4 linked regions of the Homo sapiens genome follow. The gene in region 2 interacts genetically with the main gene of each other region. Each region holds a gene or a part of one and is shown on either strand. Other genes may lie near its edges. The genes, in order: CFLAR, TNFRSF1A, NOL3 and HNRNPA2B1.

Region 1 (7,036 bases), on a different chromosome or scaffold from region 2:
CTCACTTTGTTGCCCAGGCTGAAAATTTCTTAATTTTAAAGAAAAGTATTCAAACTACAAACTAACTAACTACAAAGTATTTATAAATCATGCCGGGTCTATACTGTAGTCCTAGGGCAAGCCCAATGCAGGAGGGAAAATCTCTTTTCCTCCCGGAAGAGATGGGCAGCAAATGTGGCACAGTGGTAATTCCCATCCTGGTGGCACGAAAATAAGCAGGTGGTCCGGAACTGACCACCTCCTGGGGGCTCACCTTTCTTGTCTCAGTTTCTGGGAGAGGCACTGCAGGTACAGGGATGGTGAGCTGTGAGACTGCTCCAGCAGGGACATGTCCGCAGTACACAGGCTCCAGAAGAAGTCAGCTTCTCGGTGAACTGTGCACAGCCCTCGCTTCTGAGCCTTGAATTCCACATTCTTCATCGCTGGCCCATCCACCTCCAAGAGGCTGCTGTCCTCCAGCTGGCCCTCTGACACCACATAGTTCTGAATAAAAAACATCTTTGGCTTCCCTGCTAGATAAGGGCATGAATCTCCCATGAACATCCTCCTGATGTGATGCAGGGGGAGCCCTGAGTGAGTCTGATCCACACCATACACACTCTGGGAGCCTCCTCGGCTCACCAGGACACACACAAAGCTGTCGTAGTCTCGGTGCTCGGGCATACAGGCAAATTGGCCAAGAATCTGGGATATACCATGCATACTGAGATGCAAGAATTTCTGGACTTCATAGCCCAGGGAAGTGAAGGTGTCTCGAAGAAGCTCTGGGGAAAACAAAAAACAAACACGGAAAACAACACTGGAGTGAGGAGAGCTCAAGAGGACTGGGTAGGAATCCTAGACATGGTCTAATCTCCATTATGAAAAGCTTCTGCTTTTGTGTCATATTTTGATGTGCCTGAGTCCTGGGCAGTTGGAACAAGAACCACATGAATCATGAAAGATGTGATTTTAGGTCCCTAAATATGGTCTATACCCTGCTATACCACTGTTCCTGCCTGATGCCAGCCACAGGCACAGACTGAGCCCACTCTAGTCCAATCAAACCAAGGGGGGACAAAACCTTTTTTTCTTCAACAATCTTCTTATTGAAGTCCAGACCTCACAATCTTTCTCTCTTCTGAGTGGCTCACTCTGGGAGAAGCCCACCACCACATCATGAAAGTACTCAAGCAGTCCCTCAGAGAGGCCCACATGAAGAACAGGCTTCCTGCCAACAGCTAGCACCAACTTCTCAGTCATGTGAGTGACCACCATAGAAGTGGAGCCTCCAATCCCAATCAAGCATTCAGATGACCCAGCTGACAACTGACCACAACTTCACTAGACTCTGGGCCAGAACAGCCCAGCTAAGCTGCTCCTAAATTCCTCACCCACAGGTGAGGATATAATTAAATTAGTAACTGTGAAGATATAATTAAATTAGTACTGTTGTTTTTAGCCACTAAATTTTGGAGTGATTTGTATACATTTTTAGGTAAATAATTCACCAGGTAAGTCCTTTGACCTTTCCTATCGGTAAAAGGAAAAGGCTTCTTACTTTTCTCCTTTGCTTGGCCCACAACTAAGGATTAAACAATGAATTATTGGCTGGGCGCAGTGGCTCACCTGTAATCCCAGCACTTTGGGAGGCTGAGGCGGGCAGATTACCTGAGGTCAGGAGTTCAAGACCAGCCTAGCCAACATGGCGAAACCCTGTCTCTACTAAAAATACAAAAATTAGTCAGGTGTAGTGGCACGCACCTGTAGTCCCAGCTACTCAGGAGGCTGAGGCAGGAGAATCGCTTGAACCCAGGAGGTGGAGGTTGCAGTGAGCCAACATTGTGACACTGCACTCCAGCCTGGGCAACAGAGTGAGACTCTGTCTCAAAAAAAAAAATTAATTATTATATCATGTAAGAATGAAGAGCTACAAAGGAGGTGCTGATATTCCTAAGTCTATAATCAATAAGCATCATTAACAAGGAAATAGGAGACATGATTCACAGGTTGCAAATAACCCATTAAATAGTGAGGGCAACCAGCCCCAGTGGCTCACATCTGTAATCCTAGCACTTTGGGAGGCCGAGACGGGCAGATCACCTGAGGTCAGGAGTTCGAGACCAGTCTGGCCAATATGGTGAAACCCCGTCTCTACTAAAAATACAAAAATTAGCCAGGCGTGGTGGTGCTCACCTGTAATCCCAGCTACTAGGGAGGCTGAGACAGGAGAATTGCTTGAACCCGGGAGGCAGAGGTTGCAGTGAGCCAAGATTGCGCCACTGCACTCCAGCCTGGGCAACAGAGCAGAACTCCGTCTCAAATTCAAATAATAATAATAATAATAATAATAATAATAATAATGATGAGGGCAAATGCCGTTACAGGATCTCTGGGTAGCTGTTATCAGGACTGTAATTTTGCACAGCCTTTTTGAAGAGCAATTTGGGAGTATCATTAAATTTTAAATGTGTATACCCTTTATAAAAAAAAGAAAACTCTGTGTGGTAGAAGAGGCCTGGACGCACTGTCCCCTAGCCATCTCCTCTGAGGGTGCAGGCTTGTTTCGATACCCAGTGCTGAATCCAGGCTGAACAAGGAGAGAACCTGGACTAGGACTCCAGTTCCATCACTGCTATTCTATTCCAAAGGACTCACACGTCTCTAATCATGGAGTATTTGCTCCTCCAGGGGGCAGAAGCAAACAGGGAAACACCAGACTCAAAGCTCTTTTGTGTACTTATCTCAAGATTGGTTCACTTCCCTCAAAACCTCTCTTCACTGATAAATGTCCTTCCTTATCAAACAAAGTCCTTGAAAGAAAACTTCACCACATTCTCCCTGCCCATGCTGATATGTAAGGCTTGGACAGAACAAATGCTGTACTGTGCCTTCCAGCTCTTTCCTTTATTTGTGCTCCCTGGAGGTTCTGGCTGGGGAAGCCCCTGTCACATGACTGTGAGCAGACAGCTGTGTGGTGCAGGGCAAAAGAGGAACCAGCCTTGGAATCACAAGATGTGGGTTTAAGTCCTAGTTCCTCCATCTCCTCCTACTAGGGTCTGAATCTTGCATGGTCTTGGAAGAGACTGAGCTATAACAGCAGAGAAGCTAGGAAGGAAATGGGAATCTGAGGTCTGGGGCAGAAAATCCTTACCTAAAAGAACAGAAGAAAAATGGCTAAAGCTGGAGGTGAAGCCAAAAACCATGCAGGTCCCAAGTGCCAATAAGAATAGCAGGTCTGAGCCTCAGACAAGACACAGCATTGCTTAAATATCCTGTGGCAAGGGAGTCACTCCACAGGCCCAGCCTGAAGACATTACCGCTGACATTTCCCATTAACGTCACAATTTTCCTCTATGAGGTGGTGAGGTGGAGTGGGAAGGGCTGTTAGCTGGCACTTGCAACTTTATTGCGCCAGCAAGAACATGCATACAGCCCAGTCTAACGTACAGGATCAAAAAGGTAATGACAGTGTGACTTTGAGTCAGTTTGAGTCAGCCCCAGTTTATTCATCTATAAAACAAGATTAAAACTAATGCTTGGCCAGGTGCAGTGGCTCACACCTACAATCCCAGCACTTTGGGAGGCTGAGGTGGGAGGATGGCTTGAGCTCAGGAGTTTGAGACCACCCTGGGCATCACAGGGAACCCCGTCTCTACAAAAAATAAAAAAACTAGCCAGGCATGGTAGTACAAGCCTGTAGTCATCACAGCTACTCAGGAGGCTGAGGCAGGAGGATCTCTTGAGCAGGAGGTTCTTCAAAAGGTGACTGTGAGGGCAGGGTACAGTGGCTCATACCTGTAATCCCAGCACTTTGGGAGGCCAAGGCGGGTGGATTGCTTGAGCTGCAGAGTTTGAGACCAGCCTGGGCAACATGGCGAAACCCCATCTCTACCAAAAATACAAAAATTGGCTGGGCATGGTGGCACGCATCTGTGGTCCCAGCTACTTGGGAGGCTAAGGAAGGAGGATCACTCGAGCCCAGGAAGTGGAGGAGCCAAGATCGCTCCACTGCACTCCAGCCTGGGTGAAAGAGTGAGACTCTGTCTCAGAAAAAAGGTGACCGTGAGGATCCAATGAGATTTCTGTAAAGATGCTTTGCAAACTGTGTTTATTCAAATATAAGATATTGACTTTAAAGGAAATAAAGGCAGCCATTTCAAAGTACAAATCACCAACCTTATGGTGTTGCACATCTCTCATGGAATCTCTCTCTTAGGACCTGGAGGGAGGTCTCTATATTCTAAACTAAAATGGGCTCAGAGCAGACAGAGTCCATATCCTATGTAGGTAGGACAGTAACTGTTTTGTCCTTGCACATAAATAGAGGAAGAAAAACTTGGGGGCTGGGTTTGGAAAATAAAATTTCAACAAACTACAGAAGACCCACTTCTCCTTCTAGAACCCACCCTGGAAATCCCACACTCAACCCAGTCTGATCTCCGTAAATTTCAACTGTTCTTTAGAACTTCTGGAAATGATGTGGGGGGGTGGGGAGGGGAAGGGCAGGGGTTCTTCTGGCCTTGCAGTTAGTACAGGGCTGTTCATTCAAGGCTAGGGTCAGCACTACTCACAGGTTTGAGGACTTCACAGATAAACCAAAAAAACCAAAATACAGTAAAATGTCATGACTTCATTAATTTAGAATTTGTTTTGATCTAAATGAGGATACATTTATCTTGACAATTTCTATGAAAAGGGCTTCATTAAATAAATGTATAAAATAAACAAGAATGAGGGAATGCTTCACCAGTTAATTTACAATCACATATTGAGTACCTTTAATAAGCCCAGTGTTAACTGCTATAGAGCACATGGGTAAAACATAAGATGGGCAAAACATTCTTAGTGAAAAAGGGAGTTCTGAGGTCAAACGTGTTTGGGAAATGCAAGGTGGACAAGGCTAAAATAGGTTTCTTCGCAGGAAGAATTCTCAGAGCCTTTAATAGGTCAATATGCATTGCAAATCTCTGAGGGGGAAGAGATTAGGCAGCGCTTCTCAAATTTACTTGACCGGAAAACTCTTGTTTTACAAAGTTCCCCTTATTGCCTACAGAAACACTTGGACAAGAGAATACATATCAAATATATGATGTACTTCAATCAAAGAGCTTATAATCTTGTTGGGGAAGCAAAGCTTATAAATACGCATAAAACAAAGATTACGTGGTGGCTCATGGCCATAATCCCAGTGCTTTGGGAGGCCAAGGCAGGAAGATCACTTGAAGCCAGGAGTTCAAGACCGCCCTGGGAAATACAGCAAAAGACCCTGTCTCTATAAAAAACAAAGTTAGCCAGACATGATAGCATGTGCCTGTAGTCCCAGCCACTCAGGAGGCTGAAGTGGGAGGATTGCTTCAGCCCAGAAGTTTGAGACCAGCCTGGGCAACATAGTGAGACCCTGTCTCTACAGAATATTTTAAAAATTAGATGGATGTGGTGGCGCCTGTGTGTAGTTCCAGCTACTTGGGAGGGTGAGGTGAGAGGATTGCTTGAGCCCGGGAGGTGAAGGCTGCAGTGAGCCATGATTGTACCCCTGTGCTCCATTCTGGGTGATAGAGCAAGACCCTGTCTCAAAAAAGAAAAGGAAAGTACAGAAAAATGTTCAAGCTTTTCAGAAAGAGCAGGATAGAAAAAAAAAATACTTCCTCTTGGCCAGGTGCGATGGCTCATCCCCGTGATCCCAGCACTTTGGGAGGCCGAGGCGGGCGGATCACCTGAGGTCAGGAGTTCAAGACTAGCCTGGCCAACATGGTGAAACCCCATCTCTACAAAAATACAAAAATTAGCCGGGCATGATGGCGGGTGCCTGTAATCCCAGCTACTCAGGAGGCTGAGGCGGAGAATCGCTTGAACCCGGGAGACAGAGGTTGCAGTGAGCCAAGATAACGCCATTGCACTCCAGTAGCCTGGGTGACAGAGCGAGACTCTGTCTCAAAAAAAAAAAAAACTTCCTCTTAAAATCTGCAAACATCGTCTTTTATTTTTATTCAAGGGCCTTAAAAACAACCAGAGCTTTAGGCCAAGCCGTAAAGCCCATCTGTCAGAGATGTGAGACGCTTGCTTCTATATTCCTAACAAGATAAAAGTCCAGTGCTTAAAGATGACCCACCAGGGCCTAGCACAGGTCCAGCTTTGCTGTCACTGACACAGATGACACAACACCAAAGACTTATTTTTCAATTCTACCAAACTGAGATAATTAGTTCCCAAATCCCTGAGCATTTACTTCTGCCTCAAGAAGAGGTTACTGAACTCCATAAGAATTCTTCTCAAGAAAGAACTACCAAAGAATAACCTTATTTCATGCACAACACAGCTCTGAGATCAGACTCCACCTCATTGCCTTAATATTTGCTTCACACAGGGCCAAGCATGGTGCTTTGCACATAGTAGGCCCTCAACGAACATTTACTGGACAAACAAAGAAATAAAGCTTTAAATACTTGGGGGACTTGCATGCTTTTTGGATAAAAGTCTGGTTTTTTGAGGAGAGAAGGGAAGATAGGTAGAAGAGAGTCTGCTAAACTCTAAAGATAAAAAGGAATGGCTTTTAGAAACACACTGACACTGGGAGAGCTTATTCCTTCATTCATTCACCCAACAATTATTTATTGAACACCTACATAGCAGGTATTCTTCCAGGTACTGGAGACCCATAGTAGGAGATAGATAAACTCCCTCACCTTCATGGAAATTATATTGAGGCAAAGTAGTTAAAAGCATAGGTTTTGGAGTCCAGCTTTTGAATCCCAGCTCAATCAGTACTAGAGAAGGTAGGAGTGTAGTTCACTGCTCAGCTTCCTCACCTTGAAAATGGAGAGAATAAGCCAGGCATGATGGCTGACGCCTGTAATCGTAGCACTTTGGGAGGCTGAGGTGGGCAGATCACAAGGTCAGGAGATCGAGACCAGCCTGGCCGACATGGTGAAACCTTGTCTCTACTAAAAATACAAAATTAGCTGGGCATGGTGGCACATGCCTGTAATCCCAGTTACTCAGGAGGCTGAGGCAGGAGAATCGCTTGAACCTGGGAGGTGGAGATTGCGGTGAGCTG
Region 2 (7,436 bases):
ACTAACCTCCCCATCCCCCACTCCACTTGCTGAGTCCCACTTACCACCTGGCGGCAATGAACCCTCATCTGCCTGCCTCCCATCAGCTGTCTGGTGGTGGTGGAGGATGATGAGGCTCAGGCCAGTTTCTCCTGGAAATGCAAAGCCTTATATGGTCTTATTGGTACATGATTGCAGAGAGGGGCACAGGGAATCCTCCCAGCTTTAGTAAAGGAGAGACTGAGGTCCAGGGAGGGGCTGAAGGATGTGCGAGTGGAACTCCAGCTCTCCGATCCTTGTTTCTCCCCCACTCCAGCATAAGACCTGGAATCCAGAAGTGACCCTTTCTCACCATCTTTGGGGATTCTGTCCCTGCCACCTTAGTCTTATTCATCTTAATTGCAGTCTCCCTGTTCTGAGGAGCCAAAGGAGGAAGAGACTTTCGGGGAAAGAGGAGAAGGAGCTGGTGACAGGGGTAGGAAGGTAGACAGGGTCATGACCTGAAACGGTGTGACGACTGCTGACTTCCCTTTCCTGGACTTGAGCTGATGAAGGGGAAATGGTGTTGCAGTCTCCTCTGTCAGAGCCCTCAGGTGCAGACGGCACTTGTCTGCCCCCTCAGCCTCAGCCTTGGCCCACCTGGTCCCCAGTGCCCTCTCCTCTGGCTGGGGCAGGAGGACCTGCCGGACATAGCCAGATGTATTACGGATGACTGCAGTCAGCTCCCCCAGGCTCCTGCTTCTCTTGCCTCCTGCTTTTTTCCCCAGAGCTGTCTCCTTATCTCCATTCACTTGTCTATGGGTTACTCCTGGACCCTGGGGTTAGGAGTTGGAATCAGGCTGTTAGCGATAAAAGGGTTCAAGTTGACTCATTTTCCTTATCAGGCTTAGTAGTTGAAGTGACTTGCTGAGCTTCATAATTCTTAGAGAACCTGCCATGAACCCAGCTCCCTTTCTATGACTCACCCTGCCACCCTGTGACACATAGAGTCTGAATGGCAGGTCTGGGGCTAGAACCCACGTCATCTGGACTTGGAGTCCAGTGACCCTTTGGGTTAAGCATGTGTGTGTGTGTGTGTGTGCCATGATGCGGGAGGAAGGTCCCTGCTCTCTGTAGCTGTTTTCTTCATCCTTTGCTCTACAAGCCCTAACAGCCGATTCTGTCATCCCTAGTCTGCCCCTCTCCTGTTTCTCCATCTCCTCTGACCATGATTTTTTTCTGTCCCTGGAGGGATGATGGTCTCATTCTCACCTCCTCCACGAAACGTGTTAGCTTTTCATATTCCTAGATCCACTCACTTCTCATCATCTTTTTTTTTAAACAAAATTTTATTGAAAAATGTAATATGACGTGTCAAAGTTGTAAAGTTATTGAGTAAATAAGCATGTATCCTAAATATTGAAAAATATTCTCCTTTTGTACCAGGCTATGTGTCACGGCTTTGGCGCTTTGCACAGACTATTAGAAATACCTTATAACATTAAAAATAGGACATTGAGGCCGGGCGTGGTGGCTCATGCCTGTAATCCCAGCACTTTGGGAGGCCAGGGTGGGTGGATCACCTGAAGTCAGGAGTTTGAGACCAGCCTGGCTAACACGGTGAAACCCCGTCTCTACTAAATACAAAAAATTAGCCGGGCATGATGGCACATGCCTATAATCCTAGCTACTCGGGAGGCTGAGGCAGGAGAATTGCTTGAATCCGGGAGTCAGAGGTTGCAGTGAGCCGAGATTGTGCCACTGCACTTCAGCCTGGGCAACAAGAGTGAAACTCTATCAAAAAAAAAAATAGGACATTGAAGTTGGTTTCTTTTTTTGATACAGAGTCTCGCTCTGTCACCCAGGCTGGAGTGCACTGGCAGGATCTCGGCTCACTGCAACCTCTGCCTCCTGGGTTCAAGCAATTCTCCTGCCTCAGCCTCCTGAGTAGCTGGGATTACAGGCACGCGCCACCACGCCTGGCTAATTTTGTATATTTAGTAGAGACAGGGTTTCACCATGTTGGTCAGGTTGGTCTCGAACTCCTGACCTTGTGATCCGCCCACCTCAGCCTCCCAAAGTGCTGGGATTGCAGGCGTGAGCCACCGCACTCTGCTTTTTTTTTTTTTTTTTGCCGCCCTCTCACATACCATACTCCCCTGTATCACTTATCCTTCTGAAGTTGTTATTAATCATTAATACAACTAGCTGGGCATAGTGGTGTGCGATGGTAGTCTTAGCCACTCGGAAGGCTGATGTGGGAGGCTAGCTTGAGGCCAGTAGTTCTAGGTTAGGTGAGCTATGATTGCACCATTGCACTTTAGCCTGGGTGAGAGCAAGCTCCTGTTTCAAAAAAAAAATTAATTGCTACCACTTACTAAATGCTTAATATATGGCAAACACTTGCCAAACACTTTATATGCTTGATTTAAGCATCAAGCTAGCTCTGTGAAGGGTACCAGCAGGTTTCCCATTTTTTAGATGAGCAGACCGAGGTTCTTCTCGCTGCTTCATACTGGAAACTTGCACTTGATTCTGAGGCTCCTGCTTCTTCAAGAACACTGCTTTGGGTTCGCTTCTCCTGTCCCTGGGGTCTCCCTTTGTGATGGTGGTGAGCTGCTTCCTTTCTGAATCCAGCTTCAACCCTACAGTTCTCCAGAAGCTGGACGATGGGGTGGAGTAAAGTCAGCTCCCCCCGCAGTGAGGGACACTGAAGCTCCATTCTCATCTGCGGATCACAGAGGGGAAGCCAGGAAGAGCCAGGGGACGGTGGACTTGGGGCTGGGAGGTCATCTCAGAGGGATAAGGGGTGAGGAGCTCTGGTTTCAAGTTCCAAAGCCCTAGGACCTCCCTCTTCTCTGTCTGCCTGCATTTCTAGCAGCCTCAGCAGCTGCAGGCCCTTGGGCGGGGCTGGATGTAGGGAAGGTCATTGTACCAAGAAGATAGTTGGGTAAATGTGGTACCTTTGTTGTAGGATTCTCTTGGGAGATGTCTGCATCAATGAGGATGGCATAAAGTAACCAGAGTCAGGATGTGGGGTCTGACTCAGTGACAGAAAAAGTGGCAGTGTGTCTCTCATAGCCAAAGGGGCCCTTGGACCGGCAGTCGGGAGTCTGGGGTTCTCTGTTGGCTCTGCCTCCTGGCACATTGGGTTTCTGGACCTCAGTTTTCTCCTCTATAAAACCGGGCAGTTGGGTGGGCACGGTGGCTCACACCTGTAATCCTAGCACTTTAGGAGGCTGAGGTGGGCAGATCATTTGGGCCCAGGAGTTCAAGACCTGCCTGTGTAACATGGTGAGACCCTGTCTCTACAAAAAATACAAAAATTACCCAGGCGTGGTGGTATGCACCTATAGTCCCAGCTGCTTGGGAGGCTGAGGTGGGAGGATTACTTGAACCTGGGAGGTCGAGGCTGCAGTGAGCTGCGATGGTACCACTGCACTCCAGCCTGGGAAACGGAGCGGACCCTCAAAACAAAAACAAAAATGAAAAACAAGCAAACGAAGAAATAAAAAAACCTAGGGGGTTGTAGTCGATGATCTGTAAGGTGAGTTATAATTGATGTATTGGAATATTTAGGAAAAGGGCACTGGGAATATGCTAGGAACACCTGATGGAGGTATCTTTATTTCCACGGCAGCTTCGTGGATACGTCTCATTGATTCTCATGGCATCACTTTCCCCATGTAGGTGGGCAGACATTGTTACCCCTGTTTAATAAACAAGGAACCAACAGAGGCTTAGGAGAGGAGTTGCCTGATGTCGCATGATTGGTGGCAGAGCCAGGATCAACAGTGGGGCAGGGTGGGGGGACCTGGCCAGGCAGAGACTGGATGAGACCTGGGGTGAGGAATGGCAGGCACCCAGTCAGGGCAGAAAACGAGGGTTGGGACTTACTTTGAGTTTTGGATTGGATCAGTAAATTCCCAAGAAAGAGGGAGACTAGGAGGCTAGTGAAGAACTCTGGAGTAAAGGGGAGGATTACTAAGGGACATGGAGTACCTATCATGTGTCGGACGCTTATCTATATCTCTCCCATCTGAACAAATCCTTACAGGAACCCCAGGAGACAGGTTATCTCCACTCTGCAAATTGGAAAACAGATCCAGACAGTTTCAGTTATGTGTCTGAGAAGTTCATTTATGTGTCCAAGACACATTCTTAGCTAAAAAGCTAAGCATTCTGAATTGGAACCCAGAGAATTTGACTCCCAGACTCTGGATCTTTTCACTGCTGTGATCCATCTGGGAAAGGCTAGTGATGTGGGCAAGGGGCTTATTGCCCCTTGGTGTTTGGTTGGGAGTGGTCGGATTGGTGGGTTGGGGGCACAAGGCAGCCAGATCTGGGACTCCTGTGCTTGTGACTGGACTACAAAGAGTTAAAGAACGTTGGGCCTCCTCCTCCCGCCTCCTGTGGCCTCCTCCTCCAGCTCTTCCTGTCCCGCTGTTGCAACACTGCCTCACTCTTCCCCTCCCACCTTCTCTCCCCTCCTCTCTGCTTTAATTTTCTCAGAATTCTCTGGACTGAGGCTCCAGTTCTGGCCTTTGGGGTTCAAGATCACTGGGACCAGGCCGTGATCTCTATGCCCGAGTCTCAACCCTCAACTGTCACCCCAAGGCACTTGGGACGTCCTGGACAGACCGAGTCCCGGGAAGCCCCAGCACTGCCGCTGCCACACTGCCCTGAGCCCAAATGGGGGAGTGAGAGGCCATAGCTGTCTGGCATGGGCCTCTCCACCGTGCCTGACCTGCTGCTGCCACTGGTGAGACCAGGGACAAAGGGAAGAGTGGGCTGGTGGGCGAGGCACCTTCCGGCTGGCGTGGGCCCTCTCCGGGAGGGGGCCGAGCCTCTCCTGCCCGGGCCTGGTCCTGGCGCCAGCCTCAGGCCTGCAGGTCCTAACCTCAGCCACTGCCAGTGTGGGGTTCCCCATTCATCCGCCTTTTGGAGTAGGGGCTGCGCTGAGGCAGGGGAATGGGAGAAGTTTGAAAGGGAGAGAGTAAAAGGAAGCCCTGGCCCCTGACAGCGGTGGAAGTTTGTGGGCGGCCAAGGGAATGTGGGCAGGAGATAGGCCCAGGGTGGGGCAGATTTGGCGGGGAAAAGAAGGGAGTGGGAGTAGGAAGATTAGTGCTCGGGGAGTCCAGACGGTTCTGAATTCTGTCCCTCCGGTCAGCTGGCTGGCCTGGAGGGTGTTGGGCCGTGGGGAGGCGAGGCTGCCTGTGGAACTTGGTGGAGCACACCCTGTAGGGCAGGATTTTGGCGGCTGGTGAAGTGGGGGAGTGAGTTGAGGAGTGGGGATGGGCTGGTGTGGTGGGTTTGGGATGCTCATGGTGGGAGGTATTTGAGAATGGGCTGGGACACTGGATGGGGCAGGGCAACCCAGTGGACAGTGTCCCCAGTGCCCTGGCCAAGCCCCGGCCTCTCACCTGGGGACATTCTTTACCCTTTTGCCTGCTGCTAGGCAGGTAGCCGCTGTGGGACTGAGCCTTCCCAGGGAGCTAGTCCTACCCCCACCTGGTCAGTGTCCCTGGGCCTGTCCTCCAGCTTCCCCTCCCCGCTGCTTCTCACAGACCTAAACAACAATCCCTTGGTTTCTTATTCTACAGTTCAGTTTGGGGAAGTTGGTAGAAAGTTGTTTTCGTCACTGGAAAATGTCCCTTTCTCTGGCCTCAGCCTTGTTTCAATGTATCCTTGATCGTCCTCCACGTCTTGGTCCGGGAATCATCCTGTTCAGATGTCCTGGGCCCATCTAGTCAGGCAGATTTTCCCTGCCCTGCCCGGCCTCTGAAGGCTGCGCCTACCTCCCCTCTCTTTAGTGCCTTATACTCTTCCTCTCCTACCATTCCTTTCTTCCAGCAATCTCCCCAGACTCTCCTCAGACTTCTCAGAGCCTCTTTTTTTGAAATCTTTTCTCGCTAATCCTCCTTCCCCTCCTCTCTGCTCCGCTCTGGTCCCGGCCCCAGGTCCCCAGGCAGCACGTCTCTGGTCAGGGTCTCACTCTTCTTCTTCTGCCTCCTCCTGCCTCCTTAGTCCCACCCGCTCTTCCCTTCTTCCCACTGTCCTTCCCCCACGGTCTCCCCACCAGCCAGCTGCCCTGACATCCTGCTTCTGTTTTCTGTTTGGGGGCGGCCCCTGGCTCCCTCACATACCTCCTGCATGAACAAGAGCAGCTTATATAACCTAACCTTCCATGCCTTCGTTTCTTTATCTCCAAAATGGGTGTCACAGTCTTGACCTCATACTGTTGTTTTGAAGATTGAATAGACTGATACATGTTAAGTGTTCATTTGATTTATTAAGTGTGCGCTCTGGGCTAGACACTGTGATAGGTGCTGGGATTACAGCAGAGAACAAAATCCCTGCCCACAGCTTTGACAGTCCATCAGGGGAATAGGTTGTAGCAAATAGAAAGCACTCAATAAAGTTTTTATATTGCTGTGACTAGTAGTAATTACTGGGTGGCTACCTGTGTTGGGAAAACAGAGGGTAAAGGTAGCCTGAACAGGTAAAGGGAAGTGCCTGCGTCCTGGGGTGCTTCAGCCCAGGTGGGATTATGTCTCCTAAGGGACAGAAGCCTGGCCTGGAGCTGGAGGAAAGGGAAAACAAAGGGAATGCAACATCCTTCTGAATTTCTCACCATTCAGTGGGCAATGCAGAGCTCACAGTGTGTGTGTGTGTGTGTGTGTGTGTGTGTGTGTGAGAGAGAGAGAGAGAGAGAGAGAGAAGTGGGGTAGGGGAGTAGGGAAGAATGATACAGGAGAGACTGTGGCAAAGCAAACAGGATTTTGCTGCTCTCAAAGAGCTTACAGCCTAGTAACCAAGATGGCTTACAGTGAAAAATGATTTCAGAGCAATCCCGAGGAAAATATCCACAAATGCATTGTGATGTGGTGTCCTGGAGCACCAGTTGGGAGGAGGAGGAACTGGGGAAGGAGGTGAGCCTTAGTCCACTGCCTTTCCTTGCTTAGCAGGTCTCAGCTCCTGCGCTCAGCTCCAGAAAATTCAGGAGCTTCCCCACGCTGCTTCAGTGTCCTTCACTGTGCAACTGCAGCACTCCCTGTATAGATCTCAGTGCCTACAACTGACTGTCTTTGACTCAAGTGAGAGCTCTTGAGAGCACGAGCTGTGTATTATCCACCTCAGCATCCCTAGCACCCATACGGGACCTGTCACATTAACTGTGCCCCTTAACTATTTGCTGAAGGAATTAAGGAACAAGAGATGTGTCAGATGGGATGGCGGAGGGAAAGCCTCATAGAAAAGTGGATGTGGAGCTGACATCTGAAGTCACTGCCTGTCAGGGTAGCTATAAAGGAGGGAAGCAGAGTTGGATACTGATGTGAGGAAGAGGAGAGGAATGGAGAGATGGGATTTTGTGTTGATGGGCAGGGTGGCAGGAAGCCAGACACCTTGGTTCGGGAGTGGAAAAACCATGTTGAGAAACACTAAGAAATGTGAATGGGAGAATTAGAGGGAGTGGG
Region 3 (2,736 bases), on a different chromosome or scaffold from region 2:
GTAAGGGGAGAGGGGCAGGGAGGCTCTCAGCACTTTGTGCTCTGGGTTCAGAGGGGACTGGAGGATAGAGTATGGAAGCAGGGAGCTCTGATCCTGGGTTCTGCAGGGCCAAAGCAGGAGGCAGAAGGCTGGACTTAGTAAGTGGTGAGGATGGTGAGAGAAATATTCAGCAGTCAGACTGGAAAGGACTTGTCTGCAAGCTGGGTGTGGAGTATCAGCATCAATCCTAGGTTTTTCTGCCTGGTTAGGTGGGGAAGCAGATTTGAGAGAAAGACCTTAGTTTGGATAAACGGGGTCTGAACTCGCCTCGGATTTGCCGGGGGTGGAGCTCAGGACGTCCTGGTTGGGGAGGGCATTCAGAGAGTAGATGCCAGTCCTGGGAAAGGCAGGGGAGGAGAGGAGAGCCACGGCTGACGCTTGGGGACAGAAGGAGGAGCCTGAGGAGGAGACAGGACAGAGCGTCTGGAGAGGCAGGAGGACACCGAGTTCCCCGTGTTGGCCTCCAGGTCCTGTGCTTGCGGAGCCGTCCGGCGGCTGGGATCGAGGTGAACTTAAACCCCAGCCTGGGTGTTCACTGGGGGCATTGAGGGAGTGGTCAGAGGCGGCGAGGGCAGCGGGGAGGGCAACCCCCCATTACTTCTCTCCCCTTTCCCCATGCAGCCCCGACAATGGGCAACGCGCAGGAGCGGCCGTCAGAGACTATCGACCGCGAGCGGAAACGCCTGGTCGAGACGCTGCAGGCGGACTCGGGACTGCTGTTGGACGCGCTGCTGGCGCGGGGCGTGCTCACCGGGCCAGAGTACGAGGCATTGGATGCACTGCCTGATGCCGAGCGCAGGGTGCGCCGCCTACTGCTGCTGGTGCAGGGCAAGGGCGAGGCCGCCTGCCAGGAGCTGCTACGCTGTGCCCAGCGTACCGCGGGCGCGCCGGACCCCGCTTGGGACTGGCAGCACGTGGGTCCGGGTGAGCGCGCGGGGCGGGGCCTAGGGCAGAGCAGGGACGGGGCTGGGGCAGACAAAAGGCCCGGGGAGGGCAGGGTTGTCGTCTCCGCTAGAAGTAGGCGAGTGTGAAACCGCACAGGGGTAAATTGAGCCTCAGTCACTCCCACTTCCGCCCCAGGCTACCGGGACCGCAGCTATGACCCTCCATGCCCAGGCCACTGGACGCCGGAGGCACCCGGCTCGGGGACCACATGCCCCGGGTTGCCCAGAGCTTCAGACCCTGACGAGGCCGGGGGCCCTGAGGGCTCCGAGGCGGTGCAATCCGGGACCCCGGAGGAGCCAGAGCCAGAGCTGGAAGCTGAGGCCTCTAAAGAGGCTGAACCGGAGCCGGAGCCAGAGCCAGAGCTGGAACCCGAGGCTGAAGCAGAACCAGAGCCGGAACTGGAGCCAGAACCGGACCCAGAGCCCGAGCCCGACTTCGAGGAAAGGGACGAGTCCGAAGGTGTGAGTCCGCCCAAACCCTGAGCCGGCTTGGCGGGAGGGCATGGCCTGGGAAGCGGATGCCGGACCCCACCTCTTTGACCACTGTTCCCGTCATCTCTAGATTCCTGAAGGCCAGAGCTCTGACAGGCGGTGCCCCGCCCATGCTGGATAGGACCTGGGATGCTGCTGGAGCTGAATCGGATGCCACCAAGGCTCGGTCCAGCCCAGTACCGCTGGAAGTGAATAAACTCCGGAGGGTCGGACGGGACCTGGGCTCTCTCCACGATTCTGGCTGTTTGCCCAGGAACTTAGGGTGGGTACCTCTGAGTCCCAGGGACCTGGGCAGGCCCAAGCCCACCACGAGCATCATCCAGTCCTCAGCCCTAATCTGCCCTTAGGAGTCCAGGCTGCACCCTGGAGATCCCAAACCTAGCCCCCTAGTGGGACAAGGACCTGACCCTCCTGCCCGCATACACAACCCATTTCCCCTGGTGAGCCACTTGGCAGCATATGTAGGTACCAGCTCAACCCCACGCAAGTTCCTGAGCTGAACATGGAGCAAGGGGAGGGTGACTTCTCTCCACATAGGGAGGGCTTAGAGCTCACAGCCTTGGGAAGTGAGACTAGAAGAGGGGAGCAGAAAGGGACCTTGAGTAGACAAAGGCCACACACATCATTGTCATTACTGTTTTAATTGTCTGGCTTCTCTCTGGACTGGGAGCTCAGTGAGGATTCTGACCAGTGACTTACACAAAAGGCGCTCTATACATATTATAATATATTCGCTTACTAAATGAATAAGGACTTTCCAACTGCGTTTCTGAGTTTTACAGATGGGAAAACTAAGGCCAAAGGATAGGAGTGGGGTTCACACAGCTAAGTCTGAAGGGAAACTGGAAGCAGCAACCACCTCTGCACCTCACCTGGTCTAAGAGGGGTTCAGGACTTGGGCCACCAAACTCTAGGGCCTGTCCCTCAGGTGCAATTGCAGCTGCTCCTAGGCTATGCCAACCTCTGCCAGAGAGCAGCTGTGAGGGTGTGAGCAAAGACAGGAACAGCAGAGGCCAGTGGAGGGAGTGGGGAACAGGGCCAAGGGAGCTCTTGGGCTTGACTCTCAAGGCCTGAATCAGTGTGTGTGTGTGTGTGTGTGTGTGTGTGTGTGTGTGTGTGTGTGTGTGTGTGTGTGTGTGTGTGTAATGGGAGTGGGGCTGGGAAAATTGGTGCCTTCCAAGAAGGAGTGTCCTGTCCAACCCCCCGCACCCCCACGGAACCTTCAGGAGCTGCTGCTCCCAGCCACAGGAAGTAGACCATA
Region 4 (7,036 bases), on a different chromosome or scaffold from region 2:
CCACCTATTTAGTACTGGATACATACCAGGCTTCATAATGCAGACAAGACACTTCACTCAAGTATGAACTACTATCTGAAAATAGATTCAACCATTTTTGCCCTACCTTCTTTCAGTCTCATCCTGATAAGCATGTACAGTTACAACCATAAATACAACAAATGTCTTTAATAAAAACCCCTAGTTCACTCAAAATGTTTGATCCAAGAAATGTGAATACACAAGGGTGTAACGATGGGAAATCTCATGATTTATTGAACTTGCAGCCTAACTTTTACCTACCATTTTACTACCAACACCACTGAAGGAACCAAGAAAAGCTTTATTAATGATCACTTGGCTTGCCTCAGCTGTTGAAATGAAGCACTTTACAGTCTTTGTGGCAGCAGAATATACTTGTCCATGGTTCATATCAATGCTAAAATTCCGGCAGGGAAAAAAATGATATGTTAAGCACCCAAATCTTCACATGGAGGGGGAGGGGGTGGGAAAAGAAGGAAAAAAAGGGAAAAACAACCAAAATAATTTAAGTAAATGACAGATTGGAAAACAGGGTTTATAAAAATTATTCTCTTGAGTTTATAAATTGTTAAACTCAATTTATAGCTATGTTAAACTACGTAAGAACCACTATACTGAAAGACCATTTAAGAGTATTAGTTTATCTTTTAGGGAGGAAAATTAAGAAAGGAAAAGTAAATAAGATCTTACCTAAAGAAGTTTAACTGAAGCTTAGAACTATTTTGCTCTACACCCTCAGCTTTCGTTGGCATCCTTATAAACTACTGTAGTTAAAGTTTTGTAGAAACAGCACAGTTTTTTAAGACTGGCTGAACTTAGTAGCCGTCAAGAGTTCTCTTGTACTAGACCTGTGTCCCTGAAGAGTACCTCGCTGGGGTTATTTCCTTTCCTTGCATTGAAGAAGCAGCATCTAAAAGATCTAAAAAGGTGTTTCTCCTTGCAGAGATATCCCTTAAGTTATCTACATAATTTAATCCTGATGAATTGCAGACAACACACTTACATCTGACCAGCATTTATCTTATACAAATATAACAACAGCTTTGCAACGGACCTTAATTATACTACCCACTCCTTAACTTATTTAAAATAAAAAGTCTATAATTACACAATTTCCTTTAGAATTATTTTATTAAATCATAAATGTACAACAGCTTCTTAACTCTACACACGCACTTAAATTTTTTTAAAGGAAAAACGTTATGTCTTATTACACCATGATCCTGGCTAATAGCTTTTCAAAACTTTGAGAAAAATCTTAAAAAAGGTTTCACATGTCACCTGAAACTTACAAATTTAACATTATCAAAGAAGGAATGCTTCTACACTCTTACAAAGACCACTAGAAAGAAACAACAATTAAAAAGCTAAGAAACTGTCTCAAAGGCATTTTTTTTTACAATCCTTCCTCCACAGTAAGGTAATGTTATTAAATAATCCAATCCATTCACAAAATGGCTCTCTGCATCTGCTCTGGTGTCTTCTGCCATATCACTGCATATTTATGCATGACTGAGATAAGAGTTTCCTTAACATTGTTATTTCGATAACCTGAAGCTGTTCTGTTACCTCTGGGCTCTCATCCTCTCCTATTTATACAGTGAAGCCTGTTTCAACAGAAGTAAAGAGTAAAAAAAAAATAGGTTATGAAATTATCCATCTAACCAGATTTTAAGGAAAGATAACATGATCCTAAAAAGCTTTTACTCCTGCAGCTATGTCTCCCAAGATAATAATAATTGTAAAACTCAAAAGCTACTTACCCATGGCAAATAGGAAGAAGCTCAGTATCGGCTCCTCCCACCATAACCCCCACTTCCTCCACTGCCTCCTGGACCATAGTTTCCTATAATTGTTGGAACAGCAAGAGAAAACAAACTTACTTTGATTTCCCATGATCAGCCTAACACTACAGTTGATTCTATTTTATATCCATCCAGTCTTTTAAACAAGCAGATCCTAATCCTTTGCAGCCAGTTAGCAGAATTACTCAGGAGATAAATTACTCGGGTTCATAGACATTTTTATTTCGTGGCTGACCCTATTCTTTTAAATAAAGGGTCCTTTCACCCTCTCATCCTCATTTGGACTGAGTAAGGGATTTTTTTAAAAGTACATCAAGCCCAAGACAAAGCTAGTTTACTCCTAGCTAAAAACCTCAAAAATAAGCTAAGCAATGGTTTGAATCATGGTTTAAGGATTTAACTTCAAAGACCCTCATTCCAATGTATACCACTTGCAATGTGGGTTGCAACTGTATTTAGCTGTTTATGAGTCCCCACCAGAAATTAAACTACTGAACACCCCCACCTCCAACATCCCTAATCCCAATTTGATGTCATAACTGCTTGCTGAGTACTTCTGTGGAGATTTATGCAAAATTTCTTTATTTTCACTAAGACCGTACATGGAGCACTGCCCACAGTACAAACTACTTAGTATGTTATCTTCCCTTTAAGTCACAAAAGGCTAATCCTTTAATCACAAAAATCTGAATAACCTCAATTTTTATAAATTACCTCCACCATATGGTCCCCCCATGTTCCTGCTACCACCAAAGTTTCCACTCTTCATTGGACCGTAGTTAGAAGGTTGCTGGTTATAATTTCCAAAATCATTGTAATTTCCACTTCCATAATTTCCTATTAAAAAATTGGAATACTCAGAACAATACAAACATTAAACCAAGGACTTAGGACAAAGCTCCCATAAAAACAAATAAAAGCAAACACTTATCCACAAATTTTATGGGCATCTAGTGACAAACATGGAAACAAAAGATCAAGTGTTACAAAGACATTAATTCCAAATTCCCACATAAAGGTTGCAGGTGAATTTATTACCTCCTCCATAGTTGTCATAACCACCTCCGTAGCCCCCACCCTGGTTGCCATATCCAGGTCCTCCACCACCATATCCTCCTCTTCCTCCTCCATAACCGGGGCTACCTCCAAAATTGCCACCTATTATAAAATAAGCCTTTAAGTAATCACTTAATATTTTCAATACCATTTTGAACTGTCTCCTCACATCCATTTCCAGCTTTCCAAGTTTCCATGTGAAATATTTAATGAAATTCCTCTAAAATAGCTTCAAGGACTGAATAACTATCCTTGGTAAACATTTGGTGGCTGGGGTTACTCAGCCAAATGGATAACACCATGTGCACACAGTTAAATACCTGTAATTCCACAGCTTTCCCTCAAAACTAAAAATCTTAAGTATCTTGAAATACTTCATGTATATTGTGGGTAAGGACTGTGAGGCTAGACTAGTAGTGTGGGCTAGAGGGAAAGTAAAAGAGCACTTCCTCCTACTGGCCCAAAAGATAAAGTTTCTATTATGTCTCTCTACGAATTACATATCTTAAAACAATGTTCTCGGTTGGGCACAGTGGCTCATGCCTGTAATCCCAGCACTTTGGGAAGGCCGAGGCGGACGGATCACGAGGTCAAGAGATTGAGACCACCCTGGCTAACACGGTGAAACCCCATCTCTACTAAAAATACAAAACATTAGCCGGACATGGTGGCAGCAACCTGTAGTACTAGCTACTCTGGAGGCTGAGGCAGGAGAATGGCGTGAACCCGGGAGGCAGAGGTTGCAGTGAGCTGAGATCACACCACTGCACTCCAGCCTGGGCGACAGAGAGAGACTCCCTCTCAAAAAACGAAACAATGTTCTTGGCTGGGCGCAGCAGCTCACACCTGTAATCCCAGCAGTACGGGAAGTTGAGGCGGGTGGATTGCTTGAGCCCAGGAATTCAAGACCAGCCAGGGCAACACAGCAAAACCCCCACACCTCTACAAAAAAACACAAAATTAGCCGGTCATGGTGGCACACCCCGTAGTTCCAGCTACCCAGGAGGCTGAGGTGGGAGGATGGCTTGAGACTAAGATTGCAGTAAGCCAAGATCACACCACTGCACTCCAGTCTGAGCAACAAAGCCAGACCCCATTTCAAAGAAAAAAAACAGACCCAACACTCCACACAGTATGTTCTTTACTGTAAATAGAAGTGCGGACATAAACAAAAATTTACACTTTCACATACTGCAAAACAAAAATAAAAAAAAAAAAAAGGCTGGGCATGGTTGCTCACGCCTGTAACCCCAGCGTTTTTGGGAGGCCAAGGTGGGCAGTTCACGAGGTCAGGAGTTCAAGACCAGCCTGACCAACATGGGGAAACCCCGTCTCTACTAAAAATACTAAAATTAGCTGGGCGTGGTGGTGCACGCCGGTAATCCCAGCTACTCAGGAGGCTGAGGCAGGAGAATCACTTGGACCGGGAAGGCAGAGATTGCAGTGAGCAGAGACGCGCCACTACACTCCAGCCTGGGTGACAGAGCAAGGCTCCGTCTCAAAAAAAAAAAAAAAAAAGAAACCATATTAAAAAAAAAAAAAAAGCTTGTGGGCTGAGTCTCTAACTTGTAGTTAAATACAAGAACTCAGCTTCCTCTAAAATTTTAATTATAAAAAGTAGAACAGTGAGATACACTATTTAGTCATGCCTATTGAGTGGCAACACCAGAAATCAAGTCTATTACCAGCTCAGTTTTAAATGTCCCTTGTTACAAAATCTGTCAGTGTGTATCAGCCTTTTCTGTACGCCAATGATATATCACACTTCATGTTTAATGGTAGTTCACAACCTTATCTGCAGCCAGGAGCACACTAAACATTTTGGAACATTTCCGTAGGTTACGCTTTTTGAAAGTTATCCTGGGATGCTTCCCATCTAGTTACGGGTTTAGACATATTTCATATTTTTTCCTACATATACCACCCCCTTAGGTTTTACTCTGTTAAATCCAGTATTCTGTACTTTTCCAGAGAAGCACGTACAAAGATATATCTAGATCCAATCATTTTGCTTGAGAAAAGATGAGATACTCTGATGGTTATCTTTACATTTTCATTTAAAATGGCACTCTATTCCTTAGGCTATAACAGCTAAGATGGCAAAACTACTTAGAAATAACTGGACCACTATCACCCAAGCCATTTATAGACACTAATATAAAATGTTTAAAAACTCAAAATATAAATGAAGTAAATATACGATATAGTTAAGTATTAGTCACATAAACAAACCAAAACGTAGAGGAAAACTGACCTCCAGGTCCTCCTCCATACCCATTATAGCCATCCCCAAATCCACGTCCACTGCCATATCCATCTGTTAGGGGCCAAAAAAAGATTACGTTTACTATAAACTGTTCAGCATTATTGCTAATATTCATTTTCAGTTCTCTTACTACCTCAGCACAATAATTAAGAACCGCAGAAAAGGACACACCAGTGCTACCAGTTTACCCACAAAACATGAAAGCATATAATTAAATCTACCGCCTAAATTTTGGACTCTTAACAAGTCTCAATCTTAGAGATTCCATCCTATTTATACGTAAGAATGACACTTGATGGGGGTCAAAGCTTTTCGGATGACACTTCATGTTACATTATTAATCCAGATAAATACAACTGTTATTAATACAACTCTATTAACTTCTTGTCTGGCCAAATCACAAGAGCTTGCCAGGATACAATCTATTTGAAGTCTTAGGAAAATTGACTTAGGTTGGATTTCTTGATTCTACTAATGAAAACCTAATCATATTTAAAATAAAAGCACACTCATCCTTTAAACACGTAGAACTTGAAACTCACCAGATCCTCCTCTAAAGTTACTTCCTGGTCCTGGTCCGAAATTTCCACCGCCACCACGTGAATCCCCAAAGCCAAAGTTGCCTACAATAAATGCCCCAGTTAGAAGCAAGCCCTTATATATGAACAAAAATAAAGAAGAAACAGAATTAAAATTACCTCCTCTTCCACTCCTAGAACTCTGAACTTCCTGCATTTCTTGTCTAGACAAAGCCTTTCTTACTTCTGCATTATGACCATTGATGGTATGGTATTTCTGCACTGGAATGAAAAATTCAGACTCCTTTTAAATTAAATCAACAATATTAAGCAGCTTCAAAAGTTTACCTTTCAATAAAGTTACAGATGTTAACATACACAAAATTGAATACACTGGAAAAAAACAGTACATTTGTGGTTAGACACTTACATACGATTTTATCCACAGGATCATGGTCATCAAAAGTAACAAAGCCAAAGCCTCTTTTCTTTCCAGACTGCCTATCAGTAATTATCTCAATGGTATCAATTTTTCCATATTCCTCAAAGTAATCTCTAAGGTGATGTTCCTCAGTATCTTCTTTAATTCCGCCAACAAACAGCTTCTTCACAGTTACATGAGCCCCTGGTTTTCCAGATTCCTAAAATAGTGGTGGGGTAAAAGTCATCCAAACAGAAAAAAACACAAGCATAATTCAAAGCACCCAACCGTAGTACCATACTTCGCTTGTATCCACCTTAAAACTACCAGATATAAAATAGCTTTTAGGGACCTAGCTTTTGAAAAATAAGCTAGCTTAAGAAAATGGTCCAGAAACCCAACACACCTTTAATAAGAGAAAAAATCTTGAGTTAAAACTAAATTCAGAAATAGTTTCTGATTTTCAGCAGGGCAGCGTTCTTCATGTTAATGCACAAGACAGTCATTGTTTGCTTACCTCTCTTGCTACAGCACGTTTTGGCTCAACTACTCTCCCATCAATTGAATGAGGTCTTGCAGCCATGGCAGCATCAACCTCAGCCATGGATGAAAAAGTTACAAAACCAAATCCTCTTGATCTTTTGCTTGCAGGATCCCTCATTACCTTTCAAACCAAAGGGTAAACTTTAGCATTTAATCTCATTATAGCTTATAAGTGAAGTCATAATAGAATTTTTTACTATGCTGATAGTTATTTCCTCCATGATTCACTTAACATACAGCTAAAAGACTAATATCCAGTAACAATTCAGTAATTTACATACCACACAGTCTGTAAGCTTTCCCCATTGTTCGTAGTAGTTCCTCAAACTTTCTTCTGTGGTTTCAAAGCTTAAGCCACCAATAAAGAGCTTACGGAACTGTTCCTTTTCTCTCTGCAAAGGAAAAT

The links.
Region 1: of TNFRSF1A (region 2) and CFLAR, changing one suppresses a phenotype caused by changing the other (phenotypic suppression), as found in Homo sapiens cells (one study listed by BioGRID).
Region 3: of TNFRSF1A (region 2) and NOL3, changing one suppresses a phenotype caused by changing the other (phenotypic suppression), as found in Homo sapiens cells (one study listed by BioGRID).
Region 4: changes in TNFRSF1A (region 2) and HNRNPA2B1 together harm fitness more than expected from each alone (negative genetic interaction), as found in Homo sapiens cells (one study listed by BioGRID).

Annotation. Positions count from the first base shown.
Region 1 is NC_000002.12:201,154,160-201,161,195, reverse strand, and holds part of CFLAR (CASP8 and FADD-like apoptosis regulator), read right to left. Parts: exon of another isoform or gene 6,789-7,036; intron 3,442-6,788; exon of another isoform or gene 3,404-3,441; intron 765-3,403; coding exon 254-764; intron 1-253. UniProt on the Homo sapiens protein: Apoptosis regulator protein which may function as a crucial link between cell survival and cell death pathways in mammalian cells. Acts as an inhibitor of TNFRSF6 mediated apoptosis.
Region 2 is NC_000012.12:6,339,060-6,346,495, reverse strand, and holds the start of TNFRSF1A (tumor necrosis factor receptor superfamily member 1A isoform 1 precursor), read left to right. Parts: upstream 1-4,419; 5' UTR 4,420-4,681; coding exon 4,682-4,720; intron 4,721-7,436.
Region 3 is NC_000016.10:67,173,502-67,176,237, forward strand, and holds the end of NOL3 (nucleolar protein 3), read left to right. Parts: exon of another isoform or gene 1-367; coding exon of another isoform or gene 368-545; intron 546-660; coding exon of another isoform or gene 661-668; coding exon 669-963; intron 964-1,119; coding exon 1,120-1,443; coding exon of another isoform or gene 1,444-1,445; intron 1,446-1,545; coding exon 1,546-1,553; coding exon of another isoform or gene 1,554-1,596; 3' UTR 1,597-2,236; downstream 2,237-2,736.
Region 4 is NC_000007.14:26,190,711-26,197,746, forward strand, and holds part of HNRNPA2B1 (heterogeneous nuclear ribonucleoproteins A2/B1), read right to left. Parts: intron 7,023-7,036; coding exon 6,912-7,022; intron 6,752-6,911; coding exon 6,605-6,751; intron 6,308-6,604; coding exon 6,097-6,307; intron 5,949-6,096; coding exon 5,847-5,948; intron 5,772-5,846; coding exon 5,691-5,771; intron 5,200-5,690; coding exon 5,137-5,199; intron 2,985-5,136; coding exon 2,865-2,984; intron 2,664-2,864; coding exon 2,541-2,663; intron 1,868-2,540; coding exon 1,806-1,867; 3' UTR 1,785-1,805; intron 1,629-1,784; 3' UTR 1-1,628. UniProt on the Homo sapiens protein: Heterogeneous nuclear ribonucleoprotein (hnRNP) that associates with nascent pre-mRNAs, packaging them into hnRNP particles.